7 linked regions of the Homo sapiens genome follow. The protein of the gene in region 3 interacts with the protein of the main gene of each other region in a biochemical or structural test. Each region holds a gene or a part of one and is shown on either strand. Other genes may lie near its edges. The genes, in order: DLG2, LIN7A, SLC34A1, DLG5, FRMPD3, TJP1 and SNTG2.

Region 1 (3,997 bases), on a different chromosome or scaffold from region 3:
GAAATCCAAGCTCTTTTTGTTTTTCCTAGAGGAAAGAAAAATGACACTTACGAGGCACACAGGAGCCAAATTTATCAGGGAATTCAGATATCAAGTCGTCATTGATCCGATCCTTCATGGGCCCCAGGATAATCACCGGCCGGGTGTAGTTTACTGCAGAATGGGAAAGGAAGATGTAGGTAAAGAGAAAGAGTTGGAAACAACTGCAAAACTGTCCTGCAAGGGTGATTCTTAATTGCCAGACAGTAAGAGATGCTAAGGGCATTACTTCACTGGATAAATTACTCATACAGCCTTGCATAGGGAAATTGATGTTTAACACTCAGGAGATTGGCAGTGCCTACTTTCTGGAATCTACTAGCAGGGAAAGGCAATTGCAGTATCTGTTGATGAAAAGAAACATTTGGAGGAGTTTTGCTTACTCTCTGGCTCTGCCTACATAATGTCAAAACAACTGAATTTAGTCAACTGAGTGGGAGAAAAAAGAATCCAAACCAGCTGTTTGGCTATTGTTTAGATATGACTATAAAAAGTAATTGTTAGTAGTAATAACATCTTATGTTTTCATGATTTCTTTTCCCCAGATCAAAATACTCTCTATACTTTGCTACAGTTTCTAGATTTCCTTGTATCTGGGATTAGAAGGAACCTGAGAGTTCATTGGGTACAAGTCCCCATCTGATGCTTGAATTCTCTCTGCAGTATCCTTGTCAGTAGCAATTAGCCTCTGTATAAATGCCTCCAGGAAAAAGCAGCAGCTTACAGATAGCCTACATCTTAGGCAGATCTGCTAGAAAGTCATTCTCAATACTGAGCTGACATCAGTCTCTCAGGAGAATTTATTCACCAGTCTCGTAGCTAGTGCTCTTTAGGTAATTTGAATGTGTTCCTTCCCATTGAGGACCACTCATCTGGAGGGCTGCATCCTTCTCTTAGGTGCTATTAGTGCCCATACTCAGCAGGAAGTTGTCTGTTTGGTGATAGGGTCAAAGAGAGAGAAAGTGAGAGACAGCGTAAGAGTAAGGTACGGTCTCAAGACAACAGAGCATTAAGCCGAGTTTATTCTCCTTAGTCCTTCACTCTTTCCCTCCTTCAATGATGTCACCTCTTATGGCCCAGAAATTAGGAATGAAAGCGTGCTGGGAAACTTACTTTCCTGCCTTGTAACAGGCTCATAGGAAAGAATGAGGTCTTCTTGTCCTCCTGAGAAGAGAAGGAAAGAAAACCACAGTGAACTAACAGTCATATATTACAGAGACAAGCCCTGCTCTGAAACACAGGAAACAGACACAGCTCAGAGTTAATTCTCCTTGCTCTTTCTCCTTGAACCATTCAAAAATAACTTCATCCTCATAAAACTCTTTAGCACCATTTTAGTATCAGATTTTCACAGTCATAACTCTAAGTAATAACTGGTTGCTAGCTATTTGCTGCAGGGCAATGACCTGTGAGACTTCTTTCTGTCTGGCATTGAGAATGGAATGCCATGGCCTCTACACCAAGCATTACTACTTAAAAGGAAGCCATTTAGTTCAAGGAAAGGGTCCAATTCAATAGATGGCTGCTACATAATCAGAATTGCTGTACCTTTTATTTCATCTTCTATTTTATTTCCCCAAGAAGCACACTGTTCAAAAGCAAGTATATGCTTATTTCATTTATGATATAAAAACTTCATCAGGACACTCAGGGTTTTACTCTAATATTAATTCGTCAGGAAAATGCTGTGGGTCAATTAATGAAGATCAAAAATTGAGGTGTGTCCTACATCATTGGTTATAATTGCTGCTAAACTGTGCGTTGAAACTTCAGATAGAGAACTAAGGAAGACACAGTAGTAAAATGTCAGCCCCTCCAATGTCATCTGCTACAAGCCTTCTGACTCAGGGTGGACCTCAAGTCAACAAATAACCATAGAAAGTAAATTGGTTTTTGCCATTTATTTTTTCAATCATCTATTTTATATAATTGATGAATTAATTGGTCAGAGGATTAGCTCAATTTCACCTGCAAACCCGGAAGTGTCTGCATTTTTTTTTGCATTGACTAACCTTTGGAACAGCAATAGGTTAGGGCTGTTGAAAAGAACTTTCTGTCTACTAGAAGAAATAGTGGAGCAGAAGTGGAATATGAGGTAACTTCTGAAACCAAAGGGCAATTCACCTTTGCTGTATATCCTCACCACCCACCCCTGAAGCACATTCATAGTCTATCAATGCCAGGTTTTCCTCCTTCAACAGCCACAGCACCACAGAAAGAGAGGTAATTTCATAAGAAGAGTTAATATGATCGACTGTTTTGATAATGAGACTGATTTGGGGAAATTGAGCAATATGTGGGTATAGCTGCGAAGTTGGATGACTTCCTTGGAGGCTGGGTAGCTGGAATGGGATGGGGATAGGAGTGTCTTACTTTTTCAAGTGTGAGAAATGGCCTCAGGCTGAAGTCATATCTTATCTCAGTCCCAAGGAGGGCCTGGGCTCAGAATGGCGCCACCATGCCAAGCTACTTCTTAAGGGTACAGAGAGTGGACCTTGATGCTCCTCCTAAGTGGTATGTACCCATGGCCACCCCAGAAGTGTTCAGGGGACTCTGCCACATTGGTCAGGGGTTTGGTCAGTGAGGAGTCAGATTCACTATTTCTTGTACTCAGGAAAAGAATGATTCCCTTTGAATAAACTACTGAAATGTACAGAGCCTAGGCCAAAAAACATGAAGGTGATTGATTACTAACCCCCAGTTATCTAAAGCCTGAGCGATGTAGAGGGTATACGCATTCAAGGTTTTAGTTTAGTATTACTTCATCAGGAAAATGCTGTGGGTCAATTAAAGAAGTGTAAAAATTCTTGGGGAGAAAGTATAGTTTTAATGATAGAAGCATCGTAGACTAACATTGCAATTTTAGACTATAACTTTACAGGGGAAATCTTCAACAATTAATGTGCAAGGGAAGAATTCTGACCATGGGATAACAAAAGCTTTAAATGTCAGGTAACTCTTGGACCTCCTTATTAGGCTGGGAGTTTCATAAAGGCGAGAACTGAGTTTTATTCATCACCATGTCTCCAGTGCCCCATTGAGTGCTTAACATAAAGAAAGATGTCAACAAATTTGCATTCTGATTTCAGTCATGGGAAACAGGATGAGTGATGAGGCCAACGGTAGGTTCTATTTTGTGTTTCTGTCAATATGGTCATTTAACTTTGGAAAGCATCGTTTTCTCTAAATAAATAGAGCACATCAAGTTCCCATAAAAATCTCTTCCCAATGGCTTTGCAAATCATTCTGATGGAACGTTCTAAAGGCAAATCTTTAATAAGATATTTGATGTCAGTGTGTATGATTGCGATTCAGACAACTAGGGCAAAGCATAGCTTTGATTAATTTTGTTCAAGAGTTCTCTATCTCTGTCTATCCATCACTTCTTGGTTTACTTTTCTATGAAAGGCACTGGTTCTGGTTCTGGTTCAGAGCAGTAGTGTTGGTAGACAGCAATGGCAGCATCCCTTATGTCCGGGCCACCCCAATTCTCAAGACCTTGTGGCAATCAGGTACTGTGTAATACCCAGGAAGCCTGTGGGGAAACCCGTGGAGGTGGGCATGACATAATTGCTGTGAATTCAGCATCTTAAACTAATTTTTACTTCCATGTCCAAGAATGAAAAGCCCTATGGGTAATGAGGAAGAGACAAAGGGAAAGAGAAAAAGCCACTGTGATGAAGGAGAGAAAATTCATGTCTTTGTGGCACTTTGCGGGCCTTGAGGGGCTTTCATACCCACTGGCTTTTATGTCTCACAGGCATTGCTTGAGGTAGGTACTCTGATGATCCCCATTTTACAGATGAAGAAGCTGAGGCTCAGAGATGTTAATGAGCCCTGATTCCTCAGCTAGTAAGTAGTGGAGTCAAGATTTAATACTGCACCTTTTTCAACTCTTGTGGAGTATATTGCACTGTCTTGAAACAGTGAGAGAAGCAGAATTCTCTGTGGGGCAGGG
Region 2 (3,997 bases), on a different chromosome or scaffold from region 3:
GAGGGAGGTGGATCGCTTGAGGTCAGGAGTTCAAGACCAGCCTGGCCAACATAGTGAAACGCCATCTCTACTAAAAATATAAAATTAGCCGGGCGTGGTGTTGCACACCTTTAATCCCAGCTACTCGAGAGGCTGAGGCAGGAGAATCTCTTGAACCCAGGAGGCGGAGGTGGTGGTGAGCCCAGATCAGGCCACTGCACACCAGCCTGGCCAACAAGAGTGAAACTCTGTCTCAAAAAAACAAAAAAGGGCAAATAAACCAGAAAAAAAACCCTTTTGCACTAAGTATATGACAGTCACATACTGAAACTGTTTTTCTGGTTTGCCTTTTTTTTTTTTTTTTTTTTTTTTTACAGTGTTTGAGACATAGAAACTTACACTGTGCACATCTGATTTCGTGGTTATTTTTCCTGTGGCATTTTAAATTAAGAATTCCTTTTCTATTGAAAAATGATTAATGTTCACCTTTCTTTTATTTTAGTTACTTTATGTTTTTATGTTACATTTAAATTTTAATTAATCTGTTATATTTAGCATAGTGTATGAGATTGAGTCTCCATTATTTTGTATTATTTAATTTAGTTAATAGTCCTTTTCTCCTTTGGTCTAAAGTCCACATTAATAATAAATAAAGCTTTCCATGTGATGACTCTCCTTCTGGACTCTGTGCTATGTTCTACTATCTCTTTTATACACACAATAAGACACCACTTTAATCATTGTAGATTCTTAATAAATTTTAATATCTGATACAGAAATTTTCTCTTTGTTACTATGTTTTAATTTTTTTCAAAATTTTGTTGACTAGTGCATTTACTCTTCCAGATAAAATTTGGAAATTTCATTCCTAATGTTAGCATTATAATTTAGGTCTTCATTGCTTTTCACCCTTATGACCTGAATCCCCACACAGTCCATTCTGTGACCTAGTGCAGCCTAACCTGCTTATAGTTTAACCACAATGTAATAAATAATAACGATGATGGTAAGATAACTCATTTGCCATGTTTTCTTAAAATTTTAAATTTTGGGTTCTTAATGTGATATTAATTTCAGATTTGTCTCCAGGGAAAAGAACATTGAACCTCCTCCCTTTAAGAAGTGTCATTGTATTTTCAGAGTGTGGAAGGAGAACACCATGAGAAAGCTGTGGAACTACTCAAGGCTGCTAAAGACAGCGTCAAGCTGGTGGTGCGATACACCCCAAAAGTTCTGGAAGAAATGGAGGCTCGCTTTGAAAAGCTACGAACAGCCAGGCGTCGGCAGCAGCAGCAATTGCTAATTCAGCAGCAGCAACAGCAGCAGCAGCAACAAACACAACAAAACCACATGTCATAGGTGAGAAGTGACTTATTCTATACAAGGAGTATATATATATATATACACACACACATATATGTATATATGAATATACTTAAAATATATTTTAGATATGTTCTAAAATATATTTTCTTAGCTGAAACAAAATCATTAGATTTAAATAATCCAAACAAAATCAATCAAACAAAAGACAGTGATCTAAAAGTATATAAGCAAGATAGTTTATGTGCCATTCAGCTATATTCTCCACAAATATAAGATAATTTGGAAAATGATATACTTTGAAAGGGGCAAGTACAGGCTCTAGGATGCTTTTATACAAATTAAGAAAATGCAGCCTCTGTGCAAACCCAGATCCTAAGGAGAAGAGTGTGGGCTGGATTCCAGGCCTCACTCACCCTGTTGGCCAGTTGCCTTTACACAGTGTATTAACTGCACAACCTTATAGTGCTGACCCTGGAAAGATCTCCTTTAGAATACTGAGATACAATTTATTGGAAAAGTGCCCCACTGAAAAGAATGAAGCTGAGACCTGCCACTGTCTATGCTGTAAGAGATTCTGAAGTTCTCTGCGGATGCTCCTTTAAAGTGTGTCTAACATACAAATGGCCAACAGCTATATGAAAAAATGCTCAACATCTCTAATCATCAGAGAAATGCAAATTAAAACCACAATGAGATATCACCTCATACCTTTTAATTTGGCTATTATCAAAAAGAGGAAAGATAACAAGTGCTAGTGAGGATGTGAAGAAAAGGGAACCCTTGTACACCGTTGGTGGGAATATAAATTGCTACAGCCAATTTGACAGACAATATGGAGGTTCCTCAAAAAAGTTCATAGAATTCCATATGATCCAGCAATTCTGCTTCTGGGGAGATATTCAAAGGAATTGAAATCAATATGTCAAAGAGATGTTTACACTCCCATGTTCAATACAGCATTATTACAACAGCTAAGATATGAAAACAACTGAAGTGCTATCAAGGGATGAATACATTTTTTAAATGTGGTAAGTATGTGATAGATATCTATATCTACCTACACACACACACACACACACACACACACACACACACACACACACAGATGTATACCATTTAATATTTAGCCTTTAAAAAGCAGGAAATGTCATTTTTGTCAGCGTGGATGGGCCTAGAGAACATCATGCTAAGTGAAATAAGCCAAGCATGGGCAGACAAATACCACATGATCTCACCTATGTGTGGAATCTGAAAAACTTTAATTCATAGAAGTAGAGAGTAGAATGTGGTTTCCAGAGGCTGGGAGGCTGGGGGAGGAGGGTAGACAGAGAAAAGGGAAAAGGTCTTAGCTAAAGGTTACAAGTTTCAGTTAGGTAGAAGGGGAATAAGTTAAGATGATCTATTATACAACTTGGTAACTATAGTTAATAATACTACATTGCATATTTCAAAATAGCTGAGAGAATGGACTGTAAATATTCTCACCACAAAGAAACAATAAGTATTTGTGGTAACAACTTTGGTAGCCTGATTTGATCATTCCACAATGTATACATGCATTGAAATATCGCATTATAATCCATAAATATATAAAATTATTACTTGTCAATGAAAAATAAAACTTTAAGAGTTTTGAAAAAGTTGTAAAGTAGAAATAAAATGTGTCTAAGATTCTCCTGCCTTTTTCTAAATTCCACTTTGTAACAAAGAACACTAAATCAGGTTTTGCTGTATATTATCAAGAGAATTGAAGAAAAAATGTTAAGAGACCCCATCTTAGAAGTTCCTACTATGCCCTATGCCCTTATCACATTTTATCCCTAATCCTCAGAAAAAAACCTTCAAGGCAAGTATCAATAAATAGTTTTTTAGATGAAAATATGAAGCTAAAATAGCTTCAGTGGATTTCCCATGACTGCATTTACAGAAACATAGAATTCTTTTCCTTTTTACTCCATCAGGTTTTCATCTGCCAACATCAGATATTCTGGAGTTATATAAATTTTCCTTGCTATCCTTTGGAGAAGACAGTTCATATTGTTAGATACCTTTACACTATGATGTCTGTGAATGTGTATTTGAAGTGAACTTCAAATATTCTTGGAAAAATGATTGTGGGTAATAGTGGTTTTAGGTCATTCAACATCAGATTACTATTTGCACAAACAGAAATATTGGATATAACATGAGGCTTTTAATTGTTTGTGACACTTGTGAAAAGAAGAAGCTACAGGCTGGGAGCAGTGTCTCATGCTTGTAATCCCAGCACTTTGGGAAGCCGAGGTGGGTGGATGACGAGGTCAGGAGTTTGAGACCAGCCTGACCAACATCGTCAAATCCCATCTCTATTAAAATTCAAAAATTAGCTCCTGTAGCCCCAGCTACTTGGGAGGCTGAGGCAGGAGAATTGCTTGAACCCAGGAGATGGAGATTGCAGTAAGCCGAGATCGAGCCATTGCACTCAAGCCTGAGCAACAAGAGTGAAACTCTGTCTCAAAAAAACCACAAAAAAAAAAAAATGAAAAGAAGAAGCTACACAGAAAAGGGGGGAAAAGATAGGGATTTGTCCTACAACAATCCTGGGAATTCAACAATCTATCTATCTTTCATAGGCTGCTATTTTTATTATATGTACCATATTTTAGTATCTTTATCTAAAATTGCATTCTATCCTAAAAAATACATTTATTGG
Region 3 (4,478 bases):
GCCAGAGCCCAGGTGCACAGACAAGGTGGGACTCACCACCCAGGGGGACACACAGACTCTGTCACTGGCCAGGGAGGAGGCAGGCAGTAGGCAGGGAGGTGCTGAAATGGCAGAGAGGCTGGCAAGAGATACGTTGGTGCTGGAATGGAGCTGCCTTCTCTGCTGCTTGTATGAGTCCCAACAGCAGCTCTGGTCAGATCCAGCATTTTCTCACTTTCACTAGGGCTGTAGCCCCAAAATAAATCTTTAGAAGTGGTGGCTGTGTAAATCAGCAGCATTTTGGAATTATATCTCTTGATGGATTTGATCGATAGCTAACTGCCTCCCCCACTAAACCCAGAGCTCCGTGACAGCAGGGAAGGCAAACTTCAAAAATATCAAAAAGCACAACCTTATTAAAAAGGAGAAACACCCCCAGTTCACCAGGAGCACCTTGGATTCAGCTGCTCCTGCCAAGGGTCTGAACTGCACGGGGGAATGGAGAGAAACAGGTCACGTGGGCCGGGGTCTCTGGGCCCGCTGTGGGGGTGTCAGTTTGCTCATAGGTGGAGACACTCGATGTGACATTAACAGCACCTTCAAGCCCAAGGACCCAGAGATTCTGACACAAGAACTGAGAACTGATTGCATTTCCGTGACTCAGCGACACCCTCCTACCTGGGCATGAACCCAGCCCTAGCCAAAGATCCAGAGACCCGACTCCCATCTATTTCCTTTTCCTCTCTCCCTCCCCGTCACCAATTCTACTGGTCAGATGTCCCTGGGATGCACCTGTCCTCCCCAGCCCCTCCGTTCCCATCGGAGTTCAGGCCTCATCATCTCCTGCCTGGACCATTAGCCTCTTAACTGGCCCCTCCGCTTCCAGGCTCCCTTCCATATATCCGGGTTCCACCCCGGGGGCCATTCTAAAAGGCAGATCAGGCCCATCCCAGTCTGGCCAGCGGCTCCACATTCACTCAGACTCACATCCTGGACCCATGGTCGGGCATTAGAGACCTGCCACGATTCAACATTCCACGGCCTTTCCAGCTTAGGTCCTCATCTCACACTCCCTCTCCTCTGAGCTCCCCCTGGGAGACTTACAGACACCCCGACGCTTGGCAAGGCCATAGGATGTTTTTGTTTGGTTTGGTTTGGTTTTTCTGAGACAGTCTCACTCTGTCACCCAGGCTGGAGTGCAGTGGCACGATCTTGGCTCACTGCAACCTCCGAAGGCCATAGGATGTTTGGGTCATTCCCTGGGGAGTCCTGTCAGGCCAGGAACGAGGGGACCCTGGGAACAAGGTGCTGAGTGGCATCAGGGTCTCTGCCTGCAGGCGGGGGATGTGTCTGGGTCGTGGTTGATGGGAAGAACCTGACCATAGATTCCCCATGCAGAGCTGACGATTAGCAATTAACTGGGAGGAATCTCAGGGGTGAGGTTAATTGGGGGACAGAGGGAGGGCAGCTAGGGTTCCAGGGACTTTGCCCTTGACCCAAGAGTATAAAGAGGAGGGTCTCAGTTCTCCTCAGGGTCCTGGAGGCTTCATTGAGCTGCTGAGCAGAAGCTGAAACACAGAATTCTAAGGTGAGCCCAGGACCCTCACATCCCAACCCCACCCCCAGCTCTGAGTAGGAAACAGCCCAGCACCCCAGCCCCTTCATCTGTGTCCTATCTGCGCCCACCCCCACCGCGCCCCATATAACATGTCAGTCCAGCCAATCGCGGTGGCTCCCACCTGTAATCCCAGCACTTTGGGAAGCCGAGTGGGCGGATCACCTGAGGTCGAGTTTGCACTAAAAATACAAAAAATTAGCCAGGTGTGGTGGCAGGCACCTGTAATCCCAGCTACTTGGGAGGCTGAGGCAGGAGAATCGCTTGAACCCACGAGGCAGAGGTTGCAGTGAGCCAAGATTGTGCCACTGCACTCCAGCCTGGGCGGTAAGAGTGAAACTCCATCTCAAAAAAAAAAAAAAAAAGGACTCCTGCTCCTTCAGGACTTGAATTCAACTCTTCACACCCCTACAACAGCCAAGGACGCTGGGACAATGCGGGGAGTGCTGAGGCAGATCAGGGCACTCCACCCCAATAGCCAAGACTCCTGGGGCAGTGCGGGGACAAGGGGGGGCTGAGGCAAGCCTGTCAGTGTTTGTTCATTGCCCCTTGAGGGGGTGGATGGGGAAAGGAATTCATTGTGAGGGGAACCCAGGAACTCGGGATCCGGCCCAGGGGATCTCCGTGTGTGCCCAGCTGACCCCATGAGAAGGCAGGTGTCTGCAGCTCCTCCTTGCTCTCCAGGTGGGCAAAACTGAAGCCCGGCCCAGCCCCAGCCCACACCTGCAGCCACTGCCAACACCACGTATTCCCTGGCCCCCTCCAGCCCCAAACAGGCTGGGCGTCCTCAGTTCTCAGTGTCTTTTATCAATGCTATATCCAAGCCTCTGGTTCGGAGCCTGGGCTAGAGCTCAATAATACTCATTGAATGAGTGAATGGTGAATGAATGATCACCTCACCACCACCACACACACCCCTCCGAGACTCACATGCAGGTGCCCAGCACAGATGTGCACATGTGAGTCTGCATGTGAGTCTCGGAGGGCTGTGGTGGTGATGATGGAGGGTGTGGTTTGCTGGGTGTGTGTTTGTGCGTGTGAGTCTCGGAGGGGTGTGTGTGTGTGGTGAGGATGGAGGGTGTGCTTTGCTAGGTGTGTATTTGGAATCATGCGCCATGGGGGTTTGTGCAGGTGAGGGTGTGTGGGCATGAGTGTCCCGGACACAGCTATTGTCATTCAGCGTTGCTGAGACCCACTGACCTGCAGACCTCATAGTGGGTGCCCAGGATGTTGTCCTACGGAGAGAGGCTGGGGTCCCCTGCTGTCTCCCCACTCCCAGTCCGTGGGGGGCATGTGATGCGAGGGACGGCCTTTGCCTACGTGCCCAGCCCTCAGGGTAAGTGCTGCTCCCACACCCTGGACCCTGGTTGCCCACGGTTGCCCACATCCCGGATGAGGCCACTTCCCCCGCCTGTTCCTCCCCGCCTCCCCACTTTGGGGCCCTGGGGCTCCTGACCAGGCTCCCTCCCTAGTCCTACACAGGATCCCGGGGACCTCTGCCTATGCCTTCCCCAGCCTGGGCCCTGTGGCCCTTGCTGAGCACACCTGCCCCTGTGGGGAGGTCCTGGAGCGCCATGAACCACTGCCTGCCAAGCTGGCCCTGGAGGAGGAGCAGAAGCCAGGTGGGCCTGGGCTGGGGGTGGCAGAGGCGGCAGCAGTCCCTGCCCTGGCCTCTGCCCACTATGCTCATGGCTTCCCCCATCCAGAGTCCAGGCTGGTCCCCAAGCTGCGCCAGGCTGGCGCCATGCTGCTCAAGGTGCCACTGATGCTCACCTTCCTCTACCTCTTCGTCTGCTCCCTGGACATGCTCAGCTCGGCCTTCCAGCTGGCTGGAGGTAGGGCCCGGGTGGAGGAGACCTGGGAGGGGTTCCTGAAGGGCCTTGGACAACGCTGGCTCATGCTCCCCAGGGAAGGTGGCTGGTGACATCTTCAAGGATAACGCCATCCTGTCCAACCCGGTGGCCGGGCTGGTGGTGGGGATCCTGGTGACCGTGCTGGTGCAGAGCTCCAGCACCTCCACATCCATCATCGTCAGCATGGTCTCCTCTGGCTGTGAGTTGGCCCACCAGGGTGGGGAAGAGCTTGGAGGGGCACCCCAGGAGCTGGGAAGGGTGGCAAATGGGGAGCGTGACCCCAGTAAGGCTGGCCTCCATTCAGCTTGACTCCTGTATCAGCCAGGGACATGAGAGGAGCCCAACTGTAGCTGTATGTGACCCAGATGATTTATGGCAAGGAACTGGCTTCCCCGATGGTAGTTTGTCTGGGCAAGTCAGGAATCCGTAGGCCAGGGCATTGGAAGGGCAGGCGGGAACTCTCAGGTGGGCGCCGACACTGCAGTCCAGACAGGGCAGCGTTTCTCCTTTCTCAGGGAAGCCTCAGTTCTGCTTGAGGCCTTTCATTCTATTGGATTAGGCTGACCCAGGTTACCAAGGATAATCTCCTTTTCTTAAAGTCAGCTGACTGTAGACGTGAATTGCATCTACAAAACACCTTACAGAACACCCAGGCTAGTGTTGGGTTGAATAACTGGGTACCACAGCCTAGCTAAGTTGACACATAAAACTAACCATCACTGGCCGGGCGCAGTGGCTCATGCCTGTAATCCCAGCACTTTGGGAGGCTGAGGGGGGCAGATCACGAGGTCAGTAGATCGAGACCACCCTGGCTAACACGGTGAAACCCTGTCTCTACTAAAAATACAAAAAAAAAAAACAACAAAAACCAAAAAGCATTAGCCAGGCGTGGTGGCAGGTGTCTGCAGTCCCAGCTACTCAGGAGGCTGAGGCAGGAGAATGGCATGAACCCAGGAGGCAGAGCTTGCAGTGAGCCGAGATCATGCCACTGCACTCCAGCCTGGGCGACAGAGCGAGACTCTGTCTCAAAA
Region 4 (3,997 bases), on a different chromosome or scaffold from region 3:
TGAGCTGTGATTGCACCACTGCACTCAGTCTGTGTGACAGAGGGAGACCCTGTTTCAGAAAATAAATAAATAAAAGCACAGGCAACATCAGCAAGAGGAAGGTCCCTATTCTGAAAAGCCCAGACTTGCCAGTCACCAGAACAGGGTTTTTCCTGGATAAGCTGTCAAGGGCAGGGCAGCCACTTGGCAGAGGACCTGGTGTCCAGGGAGCATGCACAGGACCTGGAGACTGGGGAGACCATGAAGACTCAGTCCTTCCTGCAGAGGGGAGGTAGCCAGAGTCTCAGTTAAGGAGGGATGTTGAATTTCTGCCGTATGGTCAGCACTGGCCCCTCTCGGGTGCCCAAGCTGCCCCCTGGCTTCTGCCTTCTGATGCATCCACCCCCATCCCTGGCAGTATGGCAGCCTGGACGTGCGGAACAAGACAGTGGAGGAAGTCTATGTGGAGATGCTGAAGCCCAGGGATGGCGTCCGCCTGAAGGTGCAGTACCGCCCTGAGGAGTTCACGAAGGCCAAGGGCCTGCCTGGTGACAGCTTCTACATCAGGTACCAGTGGCTGGGGAATCGGTGGGAGATTTGGAACCAGAGGAGAGGCTTTCACTGGAGACTCTTTTCCTGGTGAATGGCTCTCTGTTTCTTGCCCCCCAAGGCTGGGGCCATGATCATCATTCCTTGACACTCAATCTGCACGCTTATTTATGTTGAGATGATTGTGACTTAGAACAACCCTTTAGGGCTTAAAGAACCAGCTGGGCCCCCTCTTTAGGGCTTAAGACCTAGAGAATTTGGAGGCAGTCAAGCCCCGTTTTCCTGTGTGCTGTGCTCCTCTTTTTCTGGTGTCCCCCAAGCCAGGTTTGCAGATCCCTCTGCAGTGTGTGTGGACTTCCAGGCATCTTCAGTGCCCTTACTACTGTATGAAATGCTGTGGGCATTTAGGGATGGCAGCAGGCTTTCTAGGAGGAGCTCAGAGCTTTCTTCACATTTCCTAAGATCCAAGATCACAGAAAGCATGAGAACACTGATGCGGTACAACTCCCTGTCTCTAGGGTAGAAGATGACATATTTCCATCCTAGAGAGATTCCAGTCTGTAGGAACCAGGGGCCGGGCCTGGGCTTCGAGGAGGGAGGCAACTGGGAAAGGCCACCTGGAAAGGGAAGTTATGGCCTCAGATCTTGGTGAGTTCTTTGATGGGGATGCGCCCTCAGTGTTAGGGGAGCAAAGGCAGTCTTTGCCCCTTTATGTAAAACACAGGGCTCCCCACTTTGAGAATCACCACCCTCGGCGATTCCTGATCAAGTTTGGAGACAGCCCAAAGCAGAATGGCAGCCTTAGGGGCCTGGCCACAGAAGGCACCTGGTTCGTCCTTGGTGGCCAGAGCCGCCTGATCGTGTTCCTTCTGTGCTGTGGTCCAGGGCCCTGTACGACCGGCTGGCAGATGTGGAGCAAGAGTTGAGCTTTAAGAAGGACGACATCCTCTACGTGGATGACACCTTACCCCAGGGCACGTTCGGGTCCTGGATGGCTTGGCAGCTGGACGAGAATGCCCAGAAGATCCAGCGCGGGCAGATTCCCAGCAAATATGTGTAAGTGTTCTCCGGGCCTGGGGTGGGGTGGGGCAGGGGTCGCCGAGGGCCACCAGCCATGGAGCTGTCCCATGGGAGGGGGCTGGGGCCAGGGCTGCTGGAGGAGGGATTCTGCTTCTTATCTTAGCTTCTGCTCTCTACATTTTGCCAAAAGTGCTGGTCTAAAAAGCTGCTCCTAGTGTGAGTCAGTGCTGTATAGAGCACAGTGATGGGTCAGAAGGCATAACGTGTTTTAGAAAAATGGATTTATGGAGATACTCGTGCCTTGCCGCTCCCTCAAAGTGTACCATTCAGTGGTTTTCAACATATTGATAGGTGTGTGCAGCCGCCACTACAGTTAATTTTAGAGCATTTCCATCACCTCAAACAAACCCCAGACCCATTAGCTGTCAGCCCCTTATCCCACTGTCCTCCCACCCAGCCCTCAGCCCTAGGCAGCCACTACTTTACTTTTGATACCCATGGGTCTCCCTGTCTGGACTTCTGTGTGGTTGGGATTGCATAGTGTGGCCTTTCATCTGGCTCCTGTCACTGAGCATGTTTTCGAGGCAGCCTGCATCCCTGCATCATTTCCCTTCTATGGCAGGAAGCGTAACTCGTCATGTCACCAATTGAAGGCTGTCCTAGCAGTTCCTTTTGACACCGAGCTGAATATGCTGTAGTAGAAAAAATCGCCTGCTCTGAGAGCTTGCCCTGGTGCTGGTGTTTGTGTCACCCCCGCAGCATGTACCGAGGGTTCCCAGGGGCGTGGGAGGAGATGTAGCCTTGAGACCTGCCAAGGAGTGTGGGGGGAGCCCAGTGTCTGGCCCACCTTTGCTTTTCTCACCAGGAAGGGCAGGAAGGGCAGGGCAGCAGGGTCTCGATGGCCCTGCCCAGCATTGTCCCCTGTGCCACAGGATGGACCAAGAATTCTCCAGGAGGCTCAGCATGTCTGAAGTCAAAGATGACAATAGCGCCACAAAGACGCTGTCAGCGGCTGCACGCCGGTCCTTTTTTCGGAGGAAACACAAGCACAAACGCAGCGGGTCCAAGGACGGGAAAGACCTGCTCGCCTTGGATGCCTTTTCCAGTGACTCCATTCCACTCTTTGAAGGCAAGTGGCTGAGCTCATTTTCCAGTGGGCTCTCCAGATGGGGCTTGCTGTGGATCCAGGAGCTCCACAACAGGGACTTAAACAAAAGAGAGTCTTACTTTGCTTTTGTGCGCAAGTCTGAAGGTGTGTGTTCGGCTTGGTCGGGGGGTGCTGCCATCTTCAGAGCCACATCTATGGGGTGTGGCTTCCATCCTCCCAGTCACCGCCTGTCAATGCAGCTGCAGCCATCATGTCCCTGTTTCAGGCAGCAGGAGGAAGGAAGGAGTGGTAAGGCAGAAGTGTGCCTCAGCTGAGCGTGCCTCTTTCAGCAGCTATCTGGAAGCCCTAACCTGTGACTTCAACTTGCATCTCATTGTCCACTTGCATGTGCAAGAGAGGTCAAAAAGGCATGTTTTGGCCAGGCACAGTGGCTCACACGTTTAATCCCAGCACTTTGGGAGGCTGAGGTGGGTGGATCACCTGAGGTCAGGAGTTCAAGACCAGCCTGGCCAACATGGTGAAACCCTGTCTCTATTAAAAATACAAAAATTAGCCAGGTGTGGTGGCATGCACCTGTAATCCCAGCTACTTGGGAGGCTGAGGCAGGAGAATCCCTTGAACCCAGGAGGCGGAGGTGCAGTGAGCCAAGATCACGCCACCGTACTCCAGCCTGGGTGACAGAGCAAGATCCTGTCTCAAAAAATAATTAAAAAGAAAAGGCATGTTTTAGCTGGGTGCATTGCTGGCCTCAGTAAGAGGTTCAGTTACTGAGGAAGAATGGAGGGATAGCTATTGGGTAGGCAAGAAGCAATCTCTGCTGAGTGCCTTGCTTGCCATTTGTTTTTAGGTTCTTACAGGCTGCTTGGTAGTGACCAAGAGCTGTCGGTTTCTGCAGAACTTCGGCATTTCTGGCCTCAGTCCTGTGTTCATGAACAAGTCTTGTATAATCCTTATGGAGCAAGATGCTAGTCCAGGGCTGGAGTTGAGTGATAGGAGATGTCAGACATCCCCTGGTAGACAGCCCTTGTGGAAAGGATGCATTTGTCCTTTAAAGCAAGAGGCCCTTAGGAACGTGGCTCCCAGGGCCCTGGTGTGTGTCTACTGTCTACTGTCCTAGAATGTGCCCTCCCTGGCAATCAGGTGTGGGGGTGGCAGTGAGCAGCAGAGTGTAGGGCAGCTGGCTGCCTCCCTCCCTCTCTTCGCTTTTTACAATGAAGACCTTAGGCCTAGGGAGTTCAGTGGATCACACTGTAGTTCATGGCCCACTGTCACTATCAGCTGGGACAAGGGTTGGCAAACTATTGGCCATGGACCGAGTCTGGACTACTGCCTATTTTTAAA
Region 5 (3,997 bases), on a different chromosome or scaffold from region 3:
AAGAATTTTCCCCTATTTTTTTCTAGATGTTTTATCATTTACAGTTTTATATTTAGGCCTATGATCCATTTGAATTAACTTTTGTATGTGGTGCAAGGTATCCATCAAAGTTTCGTGTGTGTGTGTGTGTGTGTGTGTGTGTGTTTTTTTTTGCATATGGATATCCAATTGTTATAGCACCTTTTGTTGAGAAGAGTATCCTTCCTCCACTGAATTGCCTTTGTACTTTTGTTAAAAATCTGTTGTCTATATATATATATATATATATATATATATATATATATATATATAGATCTATTCCTGTACTCTCTATTCTGATCTGTTGGTCTACTTGTCTGTCGTTATGTCAACATCACACTCTTGATTACTGGAGCTTTATAATAATTCTTGAAATCAGGAAGTATTTGTTCTCCAACTTTGTTCTTTTTCAAAGTTGGTTTGGCTATTATAGGTCCTTTGCATTTTCATGTGAATTTTAGAATCACCATGATAATTTCTACCAAAACCTGCTGTGATTTGGATTAGGATTGTGTTGAAACTATAGATCAATTTGGGGACAATTGACATCCTAACAATATTGAGCCTTCCAATCCCTGAACACAGTATTTCTACATTTAATTATACCTTCTATAATTTTCCTCAGCAGTATTTTGTAGTTTTCAGTATATAGGTCTTTCATATGTTTTGTCAGATTTGTCCCTAATTATTTCATATTTTTTGATGCTATTGTAAATGATTTTGATTTTAATTCCAATTTTCAATTATTTCTTGCTAGCATATACAAATAGAGTTGGGGTTGGGCATGTTGGCTCACGTCTGTAATTGCAGCACTTTGGGAGACTGAAGCAGGAAGATCACTTGAGCTCAGGAGTTCAAGACCAGCCTGGGCAACATAGTGAGACCCCCATCTCTATACAAAAAGATTTATTTTTAAAAGAATAGAAATACAATTGATTTTTGTGTATTGATCTTATATCCTGAAACCTTGGTAAACTCACTACATTTGGCCCTTCATATCTACAGGTTCCATATTTGTGGATTTTGAAAATATTCAAAAACAATAAAAAATAACAGTGCAATAATAAAAAATACAAAATTTAAAAATATAATATAATAACTATTTGCATAGCATTTTTATTTTAGTTTAGTTTGAGACAGAGTCTCGCTCTGTCACCCAGGCTAGAGTGCAGTGCCATGATCTCGGCTCACTGCAACCTCCACCTCCCAGGTTCAAACAATTCTCCTGCCTCAGCTTCCCAAGTAGCTGGGACTATAGACATGCACCACCACGCCCAGCTAATTTTTGTATTTCTTAATAGAGACAGGGTTTCACCATGTTGGCCAGGCTGGTCTCAAACTCCTGACCTCAAGTGATTCACCTGCCTCAACCTCCCAAAGTGCTGTGACTTTAGGCATGAGCCACAGCATCTGGCCTACATAGCACTATAGCAATTTTTTTTTTTTTTTGAGATGGAGTTTCGCTCTCGGCTCATTGGAACCTCCACCTCCTGAGTTCAAGTGATTCTCCTGCCTCAGCCTCTCAAGTAGCTGGGATTACAGGCGCCCGCCACCATGCCCAGCTAATTTTTGTATTTTTAGTAGAGACGGGGTTTCACCATGTTGTCCAGGCTGGTCTTGAACTCCTGATCTCAGGTAATCCACCAGTCTCCGCCTCCCAAAGTGCTGTGATTACAGGCATGAGCCATTGCACCTGGCCTTATATAGCATTTTAATTGTATTAGGCATTATAAGTAATCTAGAGGTGATAGAGGTATACAGGAGGATTTGCATAGGTTACATGCAAATACCACAGCATTTTATATAAAGGACTTAAGCATCCACAAATTTCAGTATCCATGGGGGTCCTGGAAGAAATCCTCCATGGATACCAAGGGAAAACTGTAGTTGTAGTAGTTTTTTGTAATAGAATCCACTGAATTTTCTACATAGATGATCATTGATGATGTATTCCTTTTCCACTCTCTCCTATATTATAGTGATATCACTGTGGCTTCCTAGTCCCTTAGTCCATACTGGTTCCACTTTAACAAAATGGGAAACTGGTCTAACCAAGGCTGACTCATTGATAGCTGGGGCTGTGACCCTCAGGGTTTGGGGGTTGTCATACCCTTGGCCAGTAGTTCCTGGAGACCTCCTCTAGGATAGCATAGGGAAGATTGACTCATCAACATTTTTGTCCTTCAGACACCAAGAAGAAGAATGCCTCCCCCATCCCTGCAATTCAGCTCTCACCCTGGGCTTCTGGGCCAGGGCCCTGTGGAGAGTCCCTCCCAGTATCTTTCTCCCCTTGTTTCCATCTGAGCTAGTAAAGGAGCCTTGTATGGCTTGGGGGTGAGTATAACCCCCATGAAAAAAAGTAGGAAAGTCTCTTATAAAAGGAGGAAAGAAAGGGAGTGGTGCCATGTCTCACTTTTGCAGTGAACTGGACTGTCTGCTTGTACCTTGCCATTGTGTGCCCCTGTCACTGAGAAGGCTATCTAGTATCTGCTGAATAAAGTGAACAGTGTCTATGAGACCTGAGCCTCCTCTGTTGTCTCTTCTCCAAGGGGAGCTCCTTCCTCTGTCCCTTGATCTAGCATGCCTTACTGATACTATGAGTATTGTCTGGGATGTAAGGGAGTAGATCAGGGGGTGGGGAAGGAATGTCTCCTTCAGCTGATAGGTTTGGACTGCCCTCTCTCACAGAGTCGGAATGATGTTATTCGAGAACGCTTTGGAATGGATCCCAAGCCAGAGATGCTTTTGGGCCTTGCTGCGCTCCACATCTATATCACTGTCTCAGCCACTCGACCTAGTCAGAAGATCTCGCTCAAGAATGTGGAGTGAGTTGTGCTGCGGCCCGTTGGGATGGGGGGCGAATAGTTGCGTAGGGAAAAGGTACACTGGTTGAGCTATGCTATGCTTTTCAGAAATGTAGGACATGGGATGGGAGTGAGAATTGGAGTCCCTCATATCTAGACTATGAAGCCCTAGAGCTACAGCTTCTACTAGGGAGCTGTGGCTAATGTTATTTTCCTATCCCTGTCCCTTTTTCTTTCTCCCAGTCTCTATTCCTCCATCTCTACCTCTCAGATTCAGTCAATTTCTGTCTTACCATCTTCTCTCTGTCCCACTTTGCCTCTCTCACTAATCTCTTACTTTTCTTCTGCTTTTAGGAAGGAGTGGGGCCTGGAACCCTTTCTTCCCCCCTCCCTCCTGCAGGTCATCAAAGAGAAGAACCTCCGGAAATCTCTCTCTCAGCAACTGAAGGCTCACCAAACACATCCTTCCTGCGGCACCAAGGTATCCAGAGTAGACCACTGGGCATGGTGCTCCAGGCACTACTGGCCACAGGGAGATCCTGGGTGGTTTCCCAGCAGAGTCTGGTCCTCTAGGGATCCTCACCACTGCTTTTGACTCAGGTGCACATACGGCTTGGCCAGGTGTGGGGCAGTTGTGGAGAGGAGTCTTCCCCAAGCCTGAGCATCCCAAAGAGACAGCTGAGTGACACATCACTGAGAGAGCTCAGGGTCCTCAAAGCAAAGGGGCCAAGATGCAGGAGATAATTCTCAGGTCCTTTTCACCAATTAGTCAGTGCCGACTGAGCATGTATCATGTGGAAAGCACTGGACCCTAGGGAGGCACATGTTTTCCATGGAAATGACTAGGCTGGTGTGGTGGCTCATGCCTGTAATCCCAGCGCTTTGGGAGGCCAAAGCAGGAAGATCACTTGAGCCCAGGAGTTTGAGACCAGTCTGGGCAACATAGTGAGACAGCGTCTTTACTTTTAAAAAAATAATTTAAAAAAAATGTAAAAAAAGGAAATGTACCTCTGTACCTCTAATTCATCAGTCCTAGGGTGTGGAATTCTGGGAGACAAAACCCCAGCCCAGGGGAAAGTGGGAGAGTTGGGGGCACAAGACCTGACCTGGAGAATGGGTCACTGGGTGGAATGGTGAGGGATCAGGTTACTGCCTCCACTTTCTAGTGCTCTGAG
Region 6 (3,997 bases), on a different chromosome or scaffold from region 3:
GATAAAACATAGTAGGTTTTACAAACCATCTTTACATATACTGGCAAACACTACTTCCAGAAGATTTAGAGACTAGCATAAAATAGATTAAAATCTGTTTAGCTAAAAGGCTTGTCCAAAATAATGGTCTTGTAAAAACAGGAGACATACTTTTAACAAAATTCTTAGTTTTTACTGTTCCCAGCCCAAAGGTTTCAAGCATGTATTTTTTAATGTAAAAACCATTTTGCCTAGAAACCACCAGAATTTTACTTCATAAGCATTACTGTGTTAAAATGTCTACTTCCGAACTTCCTACCTTCACCATGTGCTCCCTTAGAATGTATGTGGAGAGACGCGCTGGTGACAGGCTGAGATGGCTGGGCATACTGCGAGGGCAATGGAGGAGGAGGGGGAGTGGCCTGGATGGGTTCATAGCGTTTCTCGCCAAATGATCTATCCACACCATCAGCTTCAGGAGGCTTTCCCCTGTTAACAAATGAAGAAAATGCCAACACCTGAAAATGGACTCACATTTACAAAACAAGTTCTCATTTCTCCATGTATCTCTAAGTTAAAAAAAAAAACTAGAAATTTCACAATTTATTCTCATGAGTATGGGTAGCTACTCTACCAAAATATAAAAACAGATTCGACCATTCATCGGCACAAGAAATGTCCAGACACACAAAAACTTTAAGAATATTAGTAAAACATCCAGAAGATGGCAACCAAAGGCAGGTGAAATTTTGGGTATAGTTTAATTGTTATTTACAAAAGATAGTAATGTTGACAGATTTAAGAAAGTCTTGCAAATATTCTGAAAACATATCATGGCACAAATTTTCCTGAGACCCACTTTTTTTGTTTTTGAGACAGGGTCTCATTCTGTCGCCCAGACTGGAGTGCAGTGGCGCGATCTCAGTTTACCACAACCTCTGCCTCCCAGGCTCAAGTGATTCTTCTGCCTCAGCCTCCCGAGTAGCTGGGATTACAGATGCCAGCCACCACGCCTGGCTAATTTTTGTACTTTTAGTAGAGATGGCGTTTCACCACGTTGTCCAGGCTGGTCTTGAACTCCTGACCTCAAGTGAGCCGCCTGCCTCTGCTTCTTAAAAGTGCTGGGATTACAGGCATGAGCCACCGCACCCGGCCCTAGACCCACTTCTGATTTTGTATCTGGCATCTGGCATACTCGGAGCACCATAAAAACAGATGTCACAGACTAGGGGTTGGCAAACTTTTTCACTGAAACACCAGAGAGTAAATGTTTGTGGTCTTTTGGCCCATACAGTCTTTGTTAGAACTATTCAAATTATGCGGTTATAGCCTTGAAGCAGCCACAGACAATGGGCATATCTGCGTTTCAGTAAAACTAAAAAAACTGGAGCTTTTACTTTAAAATTTCCCCTTGAGTTACCAGGTCCATTTTTTGGTTAAATGACTGCTAGAGCAGCAGATCCTGCTTTATTTTACAAGGTTCATTTAAGTCAAATTGTGCCATGTATGTTTATTTTTTCAGATTGCCAATTGTTAATATGTAACACAAAATTCACACAAATCTTTTTAAAAGACCCATAATTGCAACATTGCCATCTAAACCTTACTGCTGAATGCCAAAGCTGCACTAGCTTTATGTGCACCAACAATAACATATACATTTGGAATACTCCTGGTCATTTTCATAAATTTTCATTGAAGAAGTCTTATGATTGGCTTTTTTATCTTGCTTTCATGAATTTAGACTAAGCCCTTGATGATGACATTAAAATCTGAAAGTGCACATAATGCCAGTGACACAGTGAGGGACACCTTATGGAACAGCCTCACATTAATTGCCAGTCTTACCACTTGACGTTCCTTTTCAAGTAGTCATAGCTAGTGTAAGAGCCAAGAAATCTAGGTGATGGCAAAGCAAGCGCAATAGAAAAATGAAAGAAAATGGTCAATCTAACTAAGTAAATTTGCAGCAAATGGAACTCAAATGTCATTTAAAAATATCAACCAACATCCACCATTTCACCATAATTTGGTCTATAAAGGAACATATCACTAACTCTCATTTGGCCAAGGAAATTGAAGATAAATAAAACACAATCACTTAGTTATGTCCCGTCTGCTGGCCCATCCTTCATGTACTTTAACTGTTACTGCAGTGAAAAGCAATGTGTTTGAACTTTGCTCCTTCTCCACCTCTGTTGCAGCTGCTAATAGTGAGCAAAGAAATTTATCAAATCAAAGAGTGGTGATCAAGGATAATTAGCAGGTTCTGAATAAGTGGGAGTGACATGTCCCATTAAAAAAAAAAAAAAAAAGGCTGGGCAAAGAAATTCTGCAAGTGAAGACACAGGAAAAAGTAACACAACAGAAGAGCTACATTGAGCCCCTGGGAGGGGAATGGTAAATGGAGAGATAGAAATATGCCTGGCTTGAAACCTGGCCAGGCTTCACATGTTCCTTTCTAGCAAGACCTCCTCCATCTCCAATCGTAAGCTGGGCCCTGTGGTGGTGGAGTCTTACTGGTGAAGCTGCATGCTTGATGCTCAGGCTCTCTCTCATCTAATGATGTCTCACAAACACAAAAACAACTGAACATCAGTCTCTCACATTTAGTTCTTTAAAAGCTACAAACCACCATCATTTATTGAGACCTGGAAGTCTCACATAGTGAGTTGAGTCCTGAAAGGTAGATTTGATAACAAAAAATCCCTGGTTGTCCTGAAGAAGTTGACTCAATCTCTGGACTGAGACATGTGCACAGCCCTGGAGGGACACTGCTCTTCTTGCACTGTTTTAGAATCCTGGAAACTTCTAATTTACTTTGGAGGTGAATGTCTAAGCTACTGTCTCCTAACCTTTCCAGTTCTAATCCAGCTCTATGGAACTGTTAGACTGGGTAATATCTGCTTGCTTCCTGGGGCATCTGTCCTGTGCTAACAAAGATTATTTTCCATATCTAATTCTCACCATTTCTGAGGTGTGTTTTTAAGTGAAGCATAAGCACACATCATCTGAAGGAAGAAAATTTTGCTACTCCTGTATTTACTGAAAGAAAGAAATGCCTGAAGGCAGTCTTATTTAGTGACAAACAGTAAATGGTTTTGAAATGCAGGACAGAATCCTATATTTTAAGCTATTTTCCAGTTGATGAAGTTGTACTCATTGGACAAGAGTATGAAAAAGCATTACAAGGGAAACTTACAGAAACAACTACCCTCTTAGTTATCTTCCATGACCCTTATTCTCCTTTCCATTTCTCTAACCATTAAATACCTATATGGGAAAATGCAGCACAATTATAAAGAGTTTCAATTTCACACTACAAAGGAAAAAAAAGTATACTGGTATCCAGCCCAAACTATACTTTTCTCTCTCACAGCAGCAGGGAGTAAAATCAAACTGAGTTCTGAGTAAATTCACAAAGACAGATGTCATCTGTTTCACAATATATCCCTGTGAAAACAATGACCAGGTAATACAGGTTCCTTCCAGAGCTGTGTTAATGAAAAGAAGGGTGGTGGATGCACCTAGTATACCATGCCCTGTTTTGAGCTTCATTCACTCAACAATTACTGAGCCCCTACTGCATGCAAGGCAATGTTCTACACCCTAAAGTTATACATCACAAATAAGCTAAGTCTTCTTTCTAGAAAAACAAATTAACACAGAAAGCAAACATGCATTTTGATTGATTCCCTGGCAAAACAACTTACTTTTTAGACCTAAATATACTCCTTTTTTTTTTTGAGATGAGTCTGGCTCTGTCGCCCAGACTGGAGTGCAGTGGCGCGATCTCGGCTCATTGCAAGCTCCGCCTCCCGGGTTCATGCCATTCTCCTGCCTCAGCCTCCAGAGTAGCTGGGACTACAGGCACCTGCCACCATGCCCAGGTAATTTTTTGTATTTTTAGTAGAGACAGGGTTTCACCATATTAGCCAGGATGGTCTCGATCTCCTGACCTCATGATCCACCCACCTCGGCCTCCCAAAGTGCTGGGAGTACAGGCGTGAGCCACTGC
Region 7 (3,997 bases), on a different chromosome or scaffold from region 3:
AATGAACAGTCCAATATGTTGGGTTAGGGAGTGTCAGCCTAATACAATGACAGAGAGAGGCTCTCCCAAAGTTTATTTGGGACTATGTAGGCAATTGCAAGCTGGGACATATGTGCTATAAGAGATTATAGGGATATCCAAAGAGGCTGGGATTCAGGAAAGCTTAAAGGCAAAGTGAGGAGGTTACAGAAGTTGTTTTGAAACCGTTATCCTTGGCTACAAGGATCAATAGCAAGGGGAGCTTGTGTCCTCATAGAAGACTTGTCTTTGCACAAGGTTGCAGTGGTCTTTGTGCAGCTTGTGGTGTTGCCAGGGTCTTTTGTGGTACTTCTTGTTATCAGGTAAATATTCATGGTTCCTCTTTCATGGGGGGGGTCCATTTTGTGAGGGTTTCACAGGAGTCATTCCATCTCAGCGCCGGTCACTTTCATGGAAGTTCTATGGAAATGCTCAGCATCGGTGACTTTCATGGAAGTTCTACTGAAATGCTCAGCGTTGGTGACTTCCATGGAAATTCTACTGAAATGCTCAGTGTCAGTCATTTTCGTGGAAGTTCTACTGAAATGCTCAGCATCGGTGACCTTCGTGGAAGTTCTACTGAAATGCTCAGCGTTGGTGACTTTCATGGAAGTTCTACTGAAATGCTCAGCATTGGTAACTTCCATGGAAGTTCTACTGAAATGCTCAGCATCGGTGACTTTCACGGAAGTTCTATTGAAATGCTCAGCGTCGGTGACCTTCGTGGAAGTTCTATTGAAATGCTCAGCGTCGGTGACTTTCACGGAAGTTCTACTGAAATGCTCAGCGTCGGTGACCTTCACGGAAGTTCTACTGAAATGCTCAGCGTTGGTGACTTTCATGGAAGTTCTACTGAAATGCTCAGTGTCGGTGACCTTCATGGAAGCTCTACTGAAATGCTCAGTGTCGGTGACCTTCATGGAAGTTCTATTGAAATGCTCAGCATTGGTGACTTTCACGGAAGTTCTACTGAAATGCTCAGCGTCGGTGACCTTCGTGGAAGTTCTACTGAAATGCTCAGCATCGGTGACCTTCATGGAAGTTCTACTGAAATGCTCAGCGTTAGTGACCTTTGTGGAAGTTCTACTGAAATGCTCAGCGTTGGTGACCTTCACAGAAGTTCTATTGAAATGCTCAGCGTCGGTGACTTTCACGGAAGTTCTACTGAAATGCTCAGTGTCGGTGACCTTCATGGAAGTTCTATTGAAATGCTTAGCGTCGGTGACTTTCACGGAAGTTCTACTGAAACACTCAGTGTTGGTGACCTTCGTGGAAGTTCTACTGAAATGCTCAGCATCGGTGTATCTCATGGAAGTTCTACTGAAATGCTCAGGGTCGGTGACCTTCGTGGAAGTTCTACTGAAATGCTCAGCATCAGTGACTTTCATGGAAGTTCTACTGAAATGCTCAGCCTCAGTGACTCTCATGGAAGTTCTACTGAAATGCTCAGCATCAATGACTTTCATGGAAGTTCTACTGAAATGCTCAGCATCAGTGACTTTCATGGAAGTTCTACTGAAATGCTCAGCGTTGGTGACCTTCATGGAAGTTCTACTGAAATGCTCAGCGTTGGTGACCTTCATGGAAGTTCTACTGAAATGCTCAGCGTTGGTGACTTTCATGGAAGTTCTACTGAAATGCTCAGCATCCGTGACTTTCATGGAAGTTCTACTGAAATGCTCAGCATCGGTGACCTTCATGGAAGTTCTACTGAAATGCTCAGCATCGGTGACCTTCATGGAAGTTCTACTGAAATGCTCAGCATCGGTGACCTTCACAGAAGTTCTACTGAAATGCTCAGCGTCGGTGACTTTCATGGAAGTTCTACTGAAATGCTCAGCATCGGTGACCTTCGTGGAAGTTCTACTGAAATGCTCAGCGTCGGTGACTTTCATGGAAGTTTTACTGAAATGTGATGGTATCAACACAGCAGCATTTCCCAAAATGTGTTTGATATTAAAAAGTTATATTTTTTAAACACTCTTTGTTTGCATAGATTTGGAGAAAAGTAGATTGAAGAAGGCGGGATACTTTTGCTATTGTGGAACTTCTCAGCCACCTCACTGTGTTAATTGCACTGTCTGTCTCCAATAATGATTTGCCATGCTGTGGTTTTCAAAATTCTGTGAGTTTTTTTTTTTAAATGGGTCAACTTGATGACCATTTATTAAATTCCATGAGAATTTCGTGCTACACACTCAATGGGACAAATCATTGTAATGTAAATTTTCTTATTGTTGGTGGAGAATGATGTAATCATAATGTCACAGGCTGTAACAAATAAAAGATGTTTACATGTTTATTTAAAGCTTCACGTTGGCCCCCACAGATGGGACAATGGAATCTGAATCCAGTGGCTGAAGCACAGAAGGCAAAGCTAGAAAAAGCACTGAGGCTTGGACCAAAGGCCCCAAGGACGCAGTTTACTGCTCAGGGCTGTGTCTGAGCTGACTGAGTTGATGGATGCTAGTGGAATGGAAGAGACAGCGCTGGGGACTGCATCAGCTTTGAATATTCCATAAGGTCAGAGCCTGTGGGTGGGATCTCCAAAAGAACTCTCTTAAGTAAGACAAAAAACCACTGGGACACGCAGGTGACTGGAATCGTTATGCAGAATCAGGCTCCAATGGTAGGCCAAGCAGACACTGCTCTCTTATTTAGAGACTCCATCTCTACAAATATTGAAAGAAAAATCACTCATCCCCTTCCTGAGTGAAGGGTTTGCTCATCTGTGTATGATGCTGGATGTAGGGGGGTGAAATCAGACACCGTATGTTTGCTGCTTCTGTCTGAGTGAGAAGGAAAGAAAATCCCCTAGGGACAGACTTTTTTTTTGTTTGTTTGTGTTTTTAAGAAAAGGAAATTAAAAACACTAGAGTAGCCTCTTTTAGTCACACAAATATAAGGGAAATAGAAAAGGCAAGGAGCTTCCCCTCACTTGTTGTGGCAGGTGCCAGTGCACAAAGAGTCCAATAACCTTCTGGAAATAAAAATATCTTGATCCTTTTGAACTTCCACCCTATACCTTCCTTCTAAGCTGTGCTGCTGGAAGGAACACACCCCAGAGAGAGCTCTCCTGAACAGGCTGGGCTGGTGATCCAGGCTTCATACAAGATCCTCCACTCTGAGGGCAGAGAGGGAGGCATGCTTCCAAAGCTGCGGTGGCTGGAGCTTTCTGGCACAGGTGAGCTCAGAGCACAAGGGCAAAGCCTCCAGATGCTGGGAAAGCCAAGAAAACAGACTGTCCCCCAGAGGCTGCAGGAGAAAGCAGCCAACACCTTGATTTTAGCCCTAAGAGACAAGTTCTTAGAGAACTGTAAGAGGATAAATGTGTGTCTCTAATCTACTATATTTGTGTTAATTTGTTAAGCATCGATAGAAAATGAATACAGATAACTTCTTTCAATCATTTAATGTACTTTTTTTTTTCCTATGGGAAAAATGGGATAGAATTTGTTCAGTGCCCTTAAATGTAAAGAAATGAAGATAAATAACCATTTTTGGTTGAATAAATTGAGCTTTAGTTTCTTTGTTTGCTTGTTTTTGGTAATATTGTTAAATGGAAAGAAGATATGGACAAAGTAAAATGTTTCTCAATATTACTACAGAAAGGCAGCATTCTAATGAAAGAGAAAAAACATGCAAAGAAATAAAATAAAGATTAGTTTATGGAAGCACATAACCAAAAATGGCAGTGGGTTTATTGGTGGACTAGAACCTAAATAGAAATTCGCAATTTAAGGATATTGATGTTGTGTAAAAGCAGTCATCTTTCCCAGCATGTAAAAAGCCATCATATGTGCTGATAAATAATATTATTTTTGAGTCTCAGCTTCTCTATCCACAGAAATTAGAGTGGTGAAATAGACAACAACAAAAACATTGAGACCTAACTATATGTTGTGTACAAGAGACTCACTTTAGATTTCAAGACACACATAGGCCAAAAGTGAAGAGATGGAATAAAATATCTCATGCA

Evidence for each region.
Region 1: the proteins of SLC34A1 (region 3) and DLG2 interact in a test that uses a peptide from one of them, tested with the Homo sapiens proteins (one large-scale study listed by IntAct).
Region 2: the proteins of SLC34A1 (region 3) and LIN7A interact in a test that uses a peptide from one of them, tested with the Homo sapiens proteins (one large-scale study listed by IntAct).
Region 4: the proteins of SLC34A1 (region 3) and DLG5 interact in a test that uses a peptide from one of them, tested with the Homo sapiens proteins (one large-scale study listed by IntAct).
Region 5: the proteins of SLC34A1 (region 3) and FRMPD3 interact in a test that uses a peptide from one of them, tested with the Homo sapiens proteins (one large-scale study listed by IntAct).
Region 6: the proteins of SLC34A1 (region 3) and TJP1 interact in a test that uses a peptide from one of them, tested with the Homo sapiens proteins (one large-scale study listed by IntAct).
Region 7: the proteins of SLC34A1 (region 3) and SNTG2 interact in a test that uses a peptide from one of them, tested with the Homo sapiens proteins (one large-scale study listed by IntAct).

The regions. Positions count from the first base shown.
Region 1 is NC_000011.10:83,471,575-83,475,571, forward strand, and holds part of DLG2 (disks large homolog 2), read right to left. Parts: intron 1,204-3,997; coding exon 1,153-1,203; intron 154-1,152; coding exon 52-153; intron 1-51. UniProt on the Homo sapiens protein: Required for perception of chronic pain through NMDA receptor signaling. Regulates surface expression of NMDA receptors in dorsal horn neurons of the spinal cord.
Region 2 is NC_000012.12:80,808,806-80,812,802, reverse strand, and holds part of LIN7A (protein lin-7 homolog A), read left to right. Parts: intron 1-1,119; coding exon 1,120-1,338; intron 1,339-3,997. UniProt on the Homo sapiens protein: Plays a role in establishing and maintaining the asymmetric distribution of channels and receptors at the plasma membrane of polarized cells.
Region 3 is NC_000005.10:177,382,921-177,387,398, forward strand, and holds the start of SLC34A1 (sodium-dependent phosphate transport protein 2A), read left to right. Parts: upstream 1-1,513; 5' UTR 1,514-1,567; intron 1,568-2,774; 5' UTR 2,775-2,821; coding exon 2,822-2,930; intron 2,931-3,066; coding exon 3,067-3,216; intron 3,217-3,300; coding exon 3,301-3,429; intron 3,430-3,502; coding exon 3,503-3,646; intron 3,647-4,478.
Region 4 is NC_000010.11:77,804,345-77,808,341, reverse strand, and holds part of DLG5 (disks large homolog 5), read left to right. Parts: intron 1-397; coding exon 398-546; intron 547-1,413; coding exon 1,414-1,584; intron 1,585-2,170; coding exon of another isoform or gene 2,171-2,246; exon of another isoform or gene 2,247-2,443; intron 2,444-2,480; coding exon 2,481-2,677; intron 2,678-3,997. UniProt on the Homo sapiens protein: Acts as a regulator of the Hippo signaling pathway.
Region 5 is NC_000023.11:107,557,551-107,561,547, forward strand, and holds part of FRMPD3 (FERM and PDZ domain-containing protein 3), read left to right. Parts: intron 1-2,706; coding exon 2,707-2,843; intron 2,844-3,176; coding exon 3,177-3,303; intron 3,304-3,997.
Region 6 is NC_000015.10:29,710,533-29,714,529, forward strand, and holds part of TJP1 (tight junction protein 1), read right to left. Parts: intron 1,879-3,997; coding exon of another isoform or gene 1,828-1,878; intron 469-1,827; coding exon 299-468; intron 1-298. UniProt on the Homo sapiens protein: TJP1, TJP2, and TJP3 are closely related scaffolding proteins that link tight junction (TJ) transmembrane proteins such as claudins, junctional adhesion molecules, and occludin to the actin cytoskeleton.
Region 7 is NC_000002.12:1,359,508-1,363,504, reverse strand, and holds part of SNTG2 (gamma-2-syntrophin), read right to left. Parts: intron 1-3,997. UniProt on the Homo sapiens protein: Adapter protein that binds to and probably organizes the subcellular localization of a variety of proteins. May link various receptors to the actin cytoskeleton and the dystrophin glycoprotein complex.